Linked DNA regions of Homo sapiens. The protein of the gene in region 1 purifies or fractionates together with the protein of each later gene. This does not show direct contact. Each region holds a gene or a part of one and is shown on either strand. Other genes may lie near its edges.

Region 1 (5,018 bases):
GAAAACTTAATAACCTTTATTTATTAAAATGCCCACAAGTGAGAACTTTTTCAATATGTAAGAATGGAAGGTACCCTTTGAAACACGGCCAGGTGAGCTCACAGTATTTTTTGCCTTACTGCTGCCCCTTCCAGGTATGAGAACGAGCTGTGTCTCCGGCAGAGCGTGGAGGCTGACATCAATGGCCTGCGGAAAGTCCTGGATGACCTGACTATGACCCGCTCTGACCTGGAGATGCAGATTGAGAGTTTCACCGAGGAGCTAGCCTACCTGAGGAAGAACCACGAGGAGGTAGGAACATGTTCTACATAAACGAATAACTCTAGCTAACATATTTCTCCCCATATGCATTCTATACAAATAAAATTGGCTGGGTGCAGTGGCTCATGCCTTTAGTCTCAGCTACTCTGGAGGCCGAGGCAGGGGGATCCCTTGAACCCAGGAGTTGGAGGCCACAGTGAGCTATGATCATGCCACTGGATTCCAGCCTGAGCAACAGAGAGATACTGTGTCTCTAAAAAAGTAAAATAGGCCTGGCACGGTGGCTTATGCCTGTAATCTCAGCACTCTGGGAGGCCAAGGCAGGCAGATCATGAGATCAGGATTTCGAGACCAGCCTGACCAACATGGTGAAACCCCCTCTCTACTAAAAATACAAAAATAAACAGGGCATGATGGCGCACACCTGTTGCACCTGTAATCCCAGCTACTCAGGAGGCTGAGGCAGGAGAATCACTTGAACTGGGGAGGCGGAGTTTGCAGTGAGCCGAGATCAAGCCACTGCACTCCAGCCTGGGTGACAGAGTGAGACTCCATCTCAAAAAGAAAAAAAAAGAAAAAAAGGTAAAATAAACTCATTTTTATCTAAGTGAATTTCCCACATACTATGACCAGGAAACAAAAGTAATCATGAGTAAATTATACCTAGATTTGATTTTTTTTTTTTCCTTTCAGTGTCCTACTTTCAAATTGTTGTTGTCTAGGCACATTTTCGGAAGTCATCACTTTTCTGTTTGCATCACGATAGTCTTTTTTCCTTCATGCTAGGAAATGAAGAATATGCAAGGAAGCTCTGGAGGGGAGGTGACCGTAGAAATGAATGCTGCGCCAGGGACCGACCTGACCAAATTACTGAATGACATGAGGGCGCAGTACGAGGAGCTGGCTGAGCAAAACCGCCGAGAGGCTGAGGAGCGGTTCAACAAGCAGGTAGATCCTCTCTGCTGAGCACCTAAGCCAGTAGCCACACACAAGCCGCTTCTGCTCCTTTCATCAGCCTACAACAGCTGCATTATGTTTGTATTTAGAGCGCATCACTACAAGCACAAATCTCCACTGATGCTGGGGCAGCCACTTCTGCCAAGAATGAGATAACAGAACTAAAACGTACCCTGCAAGCCCTGGAAATTGAGCTTCAGTCCCAACTGGCCATGGTATGTGCAAATAGCTTTTCACATTTTCCAACAGGGAGTTAAGCAAATGCAGTTTTCTTTCTTTGCCAAGAGGTTCACTAGGCACATAAAAAAGGCAGTGTTAAGGAGAACTGCATTATGATTATAGAAAGCATTAAAAGTTAAAGATAATGTACTCTATTTTGCATAAAAGATTTAGTTTAAAAAGAAGTGCCAACCAAAATTAAAGAAGCAATGATATAACAATATAGGTTATATGGCGAAGGTGCACTTCTAGTGCCACATAAAATTGCATTTTTAAAAAATCATCCAATGATTTATTTTCATCATGAATTTTTTATTTGCTTTTTCTCTTAGAAAAGCTCCCTGGAGGGAACCCTGGCTGACACAGAAGCTGGCTACGTGGCTCAGCTGTCAGAAATTCAAACGCAGATCAGTGCCCTGGAGGAGGAGATCTGCCAGATCTGGGGTGAGACTAAATGCCAGAACGCAGAGTACAAGCAATTGCTGGACATCAAGACACGCCTGGAGGTGGAGATCGAGACCTACCGCCGCCTGCTCGATGGAGAGGGAGGGTAAACCAAAGTCATGAACAAACTAAAATGCATACCTTAGTGAATTTATTTTATAAAACCAAAATGGGACTCAGGGCTTAGACTTGTATATATAGAGAGTAATAAAGTAACAGACACAGGCTGCGTGCAGTGGCTCAGGCCTGTAATCCCAGCACTTTGGGAGGCTGAGGTGGGAGAATCACGTGAGCCCAGGAGTTCAAGACCAGCTTGAGCAACATAGCAAAACCCCTTCCTCTTCAAAAAATAATTTTTAAAAAATTAGCTGGAGGCTGGGCACAGTGGCTCATGCCTGTAATCCCGGCACTTTGGGAGGCCAAGGCAGGCAGATCACGTGAGGTCAGGAGTTCGAGACCAGCCTGGCCAACATGGTGAAATCCTGTCTCTACTAAAAATACAAAAATTAGCCAGGCGTGGTGGCACACACCTGTAGTCCCAGCTACTCAGGGGACTGAGGCGGGAAGATCACTTGAGCTCAGGAGGCTGAGGCTGCAGTGAGCTGTAATCATGCCACTATACTCCAGCCTGGGTGATAGAACGAGACCTTGTCTCAAAAAAAAAAAAAAAAAAATTAGCTGGGCATGGTGGTGCACACCTATAATCCCAGATACTGGGGAGGCTGAGACAGGAGGATCACTTGAGCCCAGGAGTGCAAGGTTGAACAAAAAAGCAGCAGACACAATCCAATTAAAACACATAAACACATCCAAAACTTCATCATGAAGAATCCCCGGGGCGGAGGCTTTCTCCTGCCTTTGCAAACTGCAAAGGAAAACATAATTCTTTTTTTCTCCAGTGGTTCTAGTTTTGCAGAATTTGGTGGTAGAAACTCAGGATCTGTAAACATGGGATCCAGGGATCTGGTATCTGGTGACTCAAGATCTGGAAGCTGTTCTGGTCAAGGACGAGGTAGACTTTTTTTAATATTGATAATAGTTCTGTAATTTAAAAGTGAAGACATACTTTGCTTGTCATACTAAAAGAGTCCGCTATTTTTTACATAATCTTACCCAGACAGAACACGTTGAATGCATGTGATTGAATTTCTCTTGCTCTGTGTTTCTGTGAGAGTTTCCAGACTGACATTGCAATCCCATGATTTTCAGATTCAAGCAAGACTAGAGTGACTAAGACTATCGTAGAGGAGTTGGTGGATGGCAAGGTTGTCTCGTCTCAAGTCAGCAGTATTTCTGAGGTGAAAGTTAAATAAGGAACTTCCAGATCAACAAAAGTGTCTTTCAAAGAAAAAAAAATCAAGAAGGACACAAGCGAAGAAATGGCATCAATCTAGGCATCTTTCTGGATAATTTCAGGAAAAGCTTCAGTCCAGAAATGGATGACTAGCCAACTTTTCTGCATCTTCTTATTTCCTCATTAGAATGCTCTTGAAATAGCTGAATTAACAACTTTGCTTTAATTGTTTCTATGCTTCAATAAATTTACTTTTGCAAGTTAATTATTACTTATTTTTTTAAAAAGTATTTTACCTAGGAAGGAAGCTATCAAGTATGATCTAGCTGCATGACTATATTACTAATGTCAGTTCATTCTTTATATCTTACTGTTGTAACTGAGCGAGTTATAGAGAAATGACACACTCTGAGACTAATTCAGGAGTCCTTTTATTGCCGGCGAACAAGACGGCTAGAGCTCAAAATTCTCTCGGCCCCGAAGAAGGGGCTAGATTTCTTTTTATATCGTGGTCTAAATAGGGGAGAGGGAGTTTAGCTGAAGCAATTTTTACAGAAGCAGAACAGGCAAACCAATTAAGAAAGATTAATTGGTTACAGAAACAGTTACAGAAAAGTAAACAGTTCCAGGTGCAGGGGCTCAAACTATCACAAAGAGATAATGCAGGGGCTTTGGGTGCCATCCCCCAAGCGCGTCCTCAGGAACTGCTGATTTAGCTTGCCTCGATATCTCATCAGTAAGCGCATTCCTGGATGTGCTCGGAGTCAGCTTGCACTACTTATGCCTTTAAGGGAGGGGAGCTGCAAGTGAAGAAACAAAAATGGAGTCTGTCCGGCTCTCTCAGCTAAGAGAGACAATCAGGTTAAAACGAGGTAGGGTATCACATTACCTTCTTTATACAATTCAGATTATAGTCATTTTTTTAATGTGGGCATTTTTAATGGCATCACATAAGAACTCAGTGGCATGATAGCTGAAATTAGACTACCGTGTCAACGGCTTAGCCCACAAAGAAGGATGTGATTATTTTAATAATCAACTTATAATTAATGTCTAGTTTATATATGTCCATCACTGAACTCGATATTTTATAAGATAAAAAAGAAACTCAAAATCTCCCTCCTACTTCAAAAAGCTCACATTTCAGCAGAGAAGAAGAGCTAAAACACAAAGAAGACAGCAAGCAATAAAAAGCTGTTAATAGTAAAGACTTGATTTCACAATCTGCATCAGAAGTGACATAGGAATCAGACATGTGTGTTTACAGGACATTTAGGACAGGGGCCAAAAAAGAGTCTTGGGAAATAAGATTGGCTATGTGATATGGCAATCTGATTTCCTGAAACCTTGAAAGCCCCAAAGAGAAGAGATCCTCAGGCACTTGTTCCCCTGCCAAATCTAGCCACATCTTTAGCCAAAACCTGCCACTTCGCCAAGCTGGTGTTTCTTTTCCCCAGTCTCCACTGCTAAGATCTTTCATCCCGTTGGTGGTCATAGCCCTATTCTTTCATTTCTACAGTATCCCTGAGGCCACATGGCTTTGTCTTGTCTTGTTTGGGATGATGAAACCTGTTAAGATTGGGTAGGAGGTGGTACGGGCCCCAGGAAGAACCAGGCATAGCACCAACCCAGGCTGGCTAAGGGCTTTCTCAATCAAGGAATTTAATATGCCCATATCACAAATTAGAGAATCAACTCTACAAGCCAGTCCTCAAGGAAAGAACACGGGACGTGGCATAAAAAGCCAAATGTAAAGTTATAAAAGGACAAATCTGAACATGTATCTTCCAATATAAAACCAATTAAGAATTGTGTGAGCATATCAAACCTATCATCAAAACAT
Region 2 (3,653 bases), on another chromosome or scaffold:
AATTCAGATACGACAAATGTAAGTTTCAAGCTTTAAGACCAGGAGGGTCAATTTCTATGTTTATTCAAAAAGACCATAAACTCATTTCTATGGAAAATTAGGCTGGTTTCAAAGGGATTTTTGATGAGAACAAGACAATTAATCTTAAATTTCTTTCTCTTTTCTTTTTAATTGCAACAACATAACATAACATGATTTTTACTAACAGTCTAAGCTTATTTTTAATAAATAAAAGCAATGTTAAAAAGCTTTAAAGTATTTTTAAAGTGTTATATTTTAAAATTGCCTATTTGAATCTGTGTTATTAGCATAATCAAATCTTAATGAGTGCTTCCTACAAAATACTCTTTTCCCTTTTCTATTTCATTTTGTAAATTAATATCTTACTCTTCTATGCGTCTTAAACTCTACTCCTGAATCTGCGAATGCATTATCTGCTCTGTTAGGTCATAGATTTCTCAAAGGCAGAGATTGTGTCTTGTTCAGTTCATCTTTTATATATAGTGACTAACCCAGTGGGAGAACTTCATAATTAGGTTGGTGTCAGATTTAGGCAGTTTCTAATTTAAAAAAACTGACTCACCCCCACCCCCCAAAATAACCAAGCAACCCTTCAGAAGGTGGTTAGCAGATGACATTTTAATCTAGTCATTAAATGTTCATTATTTGCTATGTTTTAGACTTGTATGTAAAGCCAGGAAAGATCTTCCTATTGTAAGGGCTTACATATAGTCATAAAACTTTAACAGCAACTGTCCAGCTGTTTTTTTTTCGTTGTTTTCTGTTACTATTGTTCTCTCAACTCCCTTGGGAGGTGAGGCAGCATTAAAGCTGCACACAACTGTAATGAAAGCTTAGAACCAGGTAACACTCAGAAAAGGGAATTGTTACTGGGGTGAGAGCATCACAGTACTCCTGGAAAGTAGTTCACAAAGTTTATAGAAGCTTGATGCAGAAACAGGCAGAGAGAGTTTTGGAGTGTTCTGTAGCCCACAGAGTGAGTAAGTGTAGTGCCAGAATTAGAATGGAATGGAATGTGAAAAACTGTGTGATCTAGGAGGAAGCAGCCCTAGGCATGAGGAAGTCTTAGCCTTGCTTTGCTTCTGGACAGCTGCATGATTGTTGCAAGTCACTTCGCCTCATTTGGCCTCAGTTTTTTTTATCTTGAGAAGTAGGGAGTTGGCCTGCATGAGTAGTCATGTCCTTTCTAAAGCAGGCAAGACTCTGATCATTCAGTTCTGGGAGTGCTCATGCTAGAAGGCAGAAGGGGTGAAGCCAAGTGATTAACTGGAACATTTGAAGAGCCAGGTTGGGATCATTCAGTCTTTCTAACCAACCCCTTCTTTTCCTTCAATATAGTCAGGCTCTTGTCTTCTTTTAATAGTGATGGCCAAATTGCCAGGATTCCCTTTACCTTCTCCTCCTTCGAGCTGAAGATTTTGATCAAACATTAACCTAAGTTATACAACAAAGGTTTTAAAAAATATTAGACTACATTTCACACAAAATTTTATCATTAATCGAAAGCCTGTGAAATCCCCCCAACTCAGACCATCTTTAATTTGTTGGTTTTCTTTTCTTTGTTAGTAGACTTGTTACTAGATGGGTAATGTGAGCTATGTGTAGAGAAAATCTGTTGGACATCAAGATGTTTACCAACATATGCAAAGGTAGCTTTCTGAGTTGTGAGGCATTATTGAATTTCCAGATACATCCAGGACATCCATTACTCAAAAAACACCCACCAATTAAGGCATAATGCTCCTGAAAACACTCTGGTGATCTATGATTACCCTGAAATTAGTTTGAAAATACAAAGTACGTCTCAAACCCAGTTCCCAGATGCAAGATAAGAACTGTGAGTTAGGTACAAACTTGGCAGAAAGAAAATGTAGCAATAAAATGGACTATAAGCTGAATAAGGGGGGAGAGTACCCACATACAGCAGGCATGTGTTTGATCACCTATCATCAGTTGAGGGGCAACTTAGAAACGATAGATACAGTAGAAAGATTACTTAGTTTGGGGCCAAATATATGTGCTATTTGATTATGCAGTTTTCTTTTCTGAAAAAGAAGGAATGATCATATCTACCTTGCAGAGTTGTAGGATTAAAGCTAACACATGTAAGATATTTGGCACATGTTAGACACATTTTTTAAAAAGTTACATAATGTTATCTTTTTGAATTAGGTTTTATAGGCTAAGAAAATCTATATTAACTGGGAAAGTGTTAAAACAAATTACACCATTCCATTCAATGCAGCAATATTTCTTCATGCTTATGGTGTGCTGTATCTGATGATAAAAGCACAAATAAGAGGATTTACATTTCTATCTTGGAAATACACAATATCTATAGGCAAAGAGACAAAAGAAAAGGCATTTCATTTGAAAGGCATAGGTCAGTGGTGAGATCTACATATTCTCTTGATACTCTGGAATAGATTGGGTGGGGAAGGCAAGATACCTGTTCTTAGGAAGTCACTATCTCACTCTGGTTCTATATTATCTGTAGTTCTACACTGTCAAAGAGGACATTGAACCTGGTGATATGGTTTGGCTCTGTGTCCCTACTCAAATCTCATCACACATTGTGATCCCCATAATCTCCACGTGTTGAGGGAGAGACCTGGTGGGAGGTGATTGGATCATGGAGGAAGTTTCCCCCATGCTGTTCTTGTGATAGTGAGTGAATTCTCATGAGATCTGATGGTTTTATAAGTGTTTGGCAGTTCCTCCTTTTCTCTCTCTCTCTCCTGCCGCCTAATGAAGAAGGTACTTGTTTCTCCTTCTCCTTCCGCCATGATTGTAAGTTTCCTGAGGCTTCCCCAGCCATGCGGAACTGTGAGTCAATTAAAACTCTTTCCTTTATAAATGACACAGTCTCTGGTATTCTTTGTAGCAGTGTGAAAATGGACTAGTACACCTGGTGACATCAAGACCCCCAGCATCATTCAAGATTTATTGTCTCTTGAACAATATGAATGACTGACTAAAGTGCCTCAAATTCTGTAGTTTGCATGTGGGATGAGTCAAAAGGGGGTGAGAATGTTAACAAGGCACATGACCCATGGGAATTTGCTGGGCATATCCTCAGTCACAGAGCAATGAGGGGAGAGTACAGGCAAAAGGTGTAAGCAGAACCAGCCACAATCTGTGGAGAAGAATGAGATGGGATGATGTTTGCTTGGCTGCTAACTTGATAATAAGAATGTTAGCCTTTGGCTTCATTTTACGTGAATACAGGGAGTTCCACCACAAAGTGGGTAGGATTATGTCCCCTAAAAATATAGTTTAAGTCCTAATCCTTCTACCTGTGAATATGACCTTGTTTGGAAATAGGGTCTTTGCAGATGTGGTCAAATTAAGATGAGGTTGTACTGGCTTAGGATGGGCTCTAATTCAGTGACTGCTGTCTTTAAAAGAAGAGGGAAATTTGGATACATACATGGACAATAAAGAGAAGGATGTGAAGATGGAGGCAGAGACTTGAGTGATTTGTCTACAAGTCAAGGAATGTCAAAGTTTGCTGGCAACCACCACAAGCTGAGAGAGAGGCATGAAACAGATTTTCCTTGAGAGTCTTGAAATGAACCAAATCTGCTGATATCTTGATTTTGGACGTTTGTCCCCCAGAACCATGGGAGAAT
Region 3 (2,807 bases), on another chromosome or scaffold:
CAAAAGCTACACTTAGCTTTAGATTAGATTCTCAATTTTAGTTTGATTCTCTGAGCTACACTTAGCTTTTGGCACAGTGTATGAAAAATTGAGAATCTAACTATAACTTGGATAAGTCCTGAAGACTCAAGTGACCTGGAAACAGCTTCATTAGAGACAGATCACATAGGCATCACTCATAACTTATAGGAAAAGGAGACTGACTTGTTTCCTGAGGAAGGGAACAGGAATCATTTATCTAGTGTTTGGGAAAACCCAATGTCAAGCACAGACATGCCCTGCCTCTGACTGAGGAGCCAGGCATACTGGGGAGGAATCTTGCCAATGCAACACCATCCCTTCTCCTTGTGATCTCTGGTGCTTCATTTAGATGCCATTAAATTGCCTCATTGCTGCCCTATAAAAGGTCTCCCCACCTGCTAGTTTTTCAGATCACTGACTTCTTCCAGTCTTGCTCCTATCAGCAAAGAGGGTAAGTCTCTATACGGGATAAGGACATGGTGAGAAACAGAGCTTTGGGGAAGCTGGGGTGGGATGAGAGCTGTGGGATGAAGGGTGAGCGAGGACTAGATGCTTAGGAAATCTGCTGAAGGAGGCTGAAAGCAATGCTGGTGGGAAACTTGGAGCCTGGGGCATGAGAGGAGAGGGAGGGGGACACGATGAGCTGGCATTCCTGTTTAAGAAGGGACTTTAGAGAACTGGCTCCCCATCCCCTTATCTGAATGCAATTGTGCAGTCCTCTCTTGGGTCTATGTGCTAATGAGGCCAACTGATTAGTCCAGCTGGTTCAAGGAGCACCTGGTAGAAACCTGCTCAAATTTAGCCTTGTTCTTTGCTCAGTACCGGGCACAGCTTGAGGCTCATGTTGGCTCAGGGTCCATGGACATAAATTTGTCTTTGCTGGGTATTCCTTGTCTGGGCAGAAGGAAGAAGGGAAGTCACCCTGGAGAGAACTGGTGGCAGGGGTCAATCATCTGGGAGCAGCAATTTCCAAAGGGTAATTCACAATGCAGACACTGAAGAAAGAGGAGAGGAGGCTTGGAGAGTTGGGTAGAAACACAGGCAGCACCATTTCAAGCCTCCATTTCCCAATATAGAGACTGAGGCCCAGAGGTAAGCGATGACTTGTACCAAGCCACATAGCCAGGTACAGGCACAGAAGCTGAGCTGAGAGTCCCTGGCTCTGAATCCACCTCCTGCCAAGTATACAGCCTCTGGATGTCTGCAACCTTCTCAAGAAAGCCTTGCTTGCAAATCACTGTATTCAAAGGGGATGTTGAAGGTTTCCCCTAGAAACCTTCCTGGTTTTACAGTTCTAATGAAACCTTTCTTTTCAGATTTTGCAAAGCCACAGAACAATGTGTGACCAGCAGAAGCAGCCACAGTTCCCTCCATCTTGTGTGAAAGGTTCGGGACTAGGGGCTGGGCAGGGTAGCAATGGTGCCTCTGTGAAATGCCCAGTTCCATGCCAGACCCAAACTGTCTGTGTGACAGGCCCTGCTCCATGCCCTACTCAAACTTATGTGAAGTACCAAGTTCCATGCCAGACTCAAACCTACGTGAAGTGCCCAGCTCCCTGCCAGAGGACCTATGTGAAATACCCAACACCCTGCCAAACCTATGTGAAGTGCCCAGCTCCCTGCCAGACAACCTATGTAAAATGCCCAACTCCCTGCCAAACCTACGTGAAGTGCCCAGCTCCCTGCCAGATGACCTACATCAAAAGTCCAGCTCCCTGCCAGACCCAGACGTGCTATGTCCAGGGTGCTTCTCCTTGCCAGAGCTATTATGTTCAAGCTCCTGCAAGTGGCTCAACCTCCCAGTACTGTGTCACTGACCCATGCTCTGCTCCCTGTTCCACCAGCTACTGCTGTCTGGCTCCCCGGACCTTCGGGGTGAGTCCCCTGAGACGCTGGATTCAGCGGCCCCAGAACTGCAACACAGGATCATCTGGCTGCTGTGAGAATTCGGGAAGCTCTGGATGCTGTGGTTCTGGGGGCTGTGGCTGCAGCTGTGGATGTGGCAGCTCTGGGTGCTGCTGTTTGGGAATTATCCCCATGAGGTCCCGAGGTCCTGCATGCTGTGACCATGAGGATGACTGCTGCTGCTAAACATACGACAGCTCAACTCCAGAATGCACTGCCCCGCTACCCCTTCTGGAACATGCACCAGCTTCTGGCCCCCTCTCTGTTAGTGCCAGTGATGTAGAACCTCATCACTTTGCCTCTGTGCTTTGCTTCTCTACCAAGGCAGCCTGCCAGAGTTAGTACAGTCCCCAAACTTTGGCATGAATAAAGCTCTGAATGCATTTCGTGGTAATTTCTGTCTGTTTGTTTGGTCCATATTTATGCTTTTCTATCAGGCACTCTTCTGCATCCCTCTCTTCTTACTCTTGTTTCTCAGCTAGAGGAAAGATCTGCACGAACATGAACAAGCAGACTGAGCTGGTGAAATCCCAGCCTGGGAGCCCCATGCCTTCTAGAATGCTGTGAATAAACTTTCCCACGCAAGTTAGAAGCATCTGAAAATGGAGATTTGAGGGTTGGGGCTGTTTCTGTGCTGCCCTTTGATGAGCCTCAGAGCAGGGTTGACCATGATGAGACCCTCATCTTCCTGGGTGTTGGAGAGATTGTGAAATTGTATCTGCTCATGGACCAGTATCACTGGTCATGGTCAGTATCACTGGACCATGTCTCCACCACTGTGCAGAGGGCTTGAACCCATGCAGGACTTTATGAATTACATTTTCTCATCTGACAGGCTTGCCCTGTTGAAACTATAGGTTGAAGGCCTGAGGGAAAAGGCTA

Evidence for each region. Proteins that work in one complex are often made in the same cells at the same time.
Region 2: the proteins of KRT24 (region 1) and SERPINB12 fractionate together in Homo sapiens (co-fractionation; one large-scale study listed by BioGRID). This does not show direct contact.
Region 3: the proteins of KRT24 (region 1) and KPLCE fractionate together in Homo sapiens (co-fractionation; one large-scale study listed by BioGRID). This does not show direct contact.

The regions. Positions count from the first base shown.
Region 1 is NC_000017.11:40,696,413-40,701,430, reverse strand, and holds the end of KRT24 (keratin, type I cytoskeletal 24), read left to right. Parts: intron 1-134; coding exon 135-291; intron 292-1,047; coding exon 1,048-1,209; intron 1,210-1,307; coding exon 1,308-1,433; intron 1,434-1,769; coding exon 1,770-1,987; intron 1,988-2,780; coding exon 2,781-2,893; intron 2,894-3,090; coding exon 3,091-3,194; 3' UTR 3,195-3,440; downstream 3,441-5,018.
Region 2 is NC_000018.10:63,552,216-63,555,868, forward strand, and holds part of SERPINB12 (serpin B12), read left to right. Parts: intron 1-3,653. UniProt on the Homo sapiens protein: Inhibits trypsin and plasmin, but not thrombin, coagulation factor Xa, or urokinase-type plasminogen activator. May play a role in cell differentiation.
Region 3 is NC_000001.11:152,718,164-152,720,970, forward strand, and holds KPLCE (protein KPLCE), read left to right. Parts: upstream 1-1,358; coding exon 1,359-2,111; 3' UTR 2,112-2,307; downstream 2,308-2,807.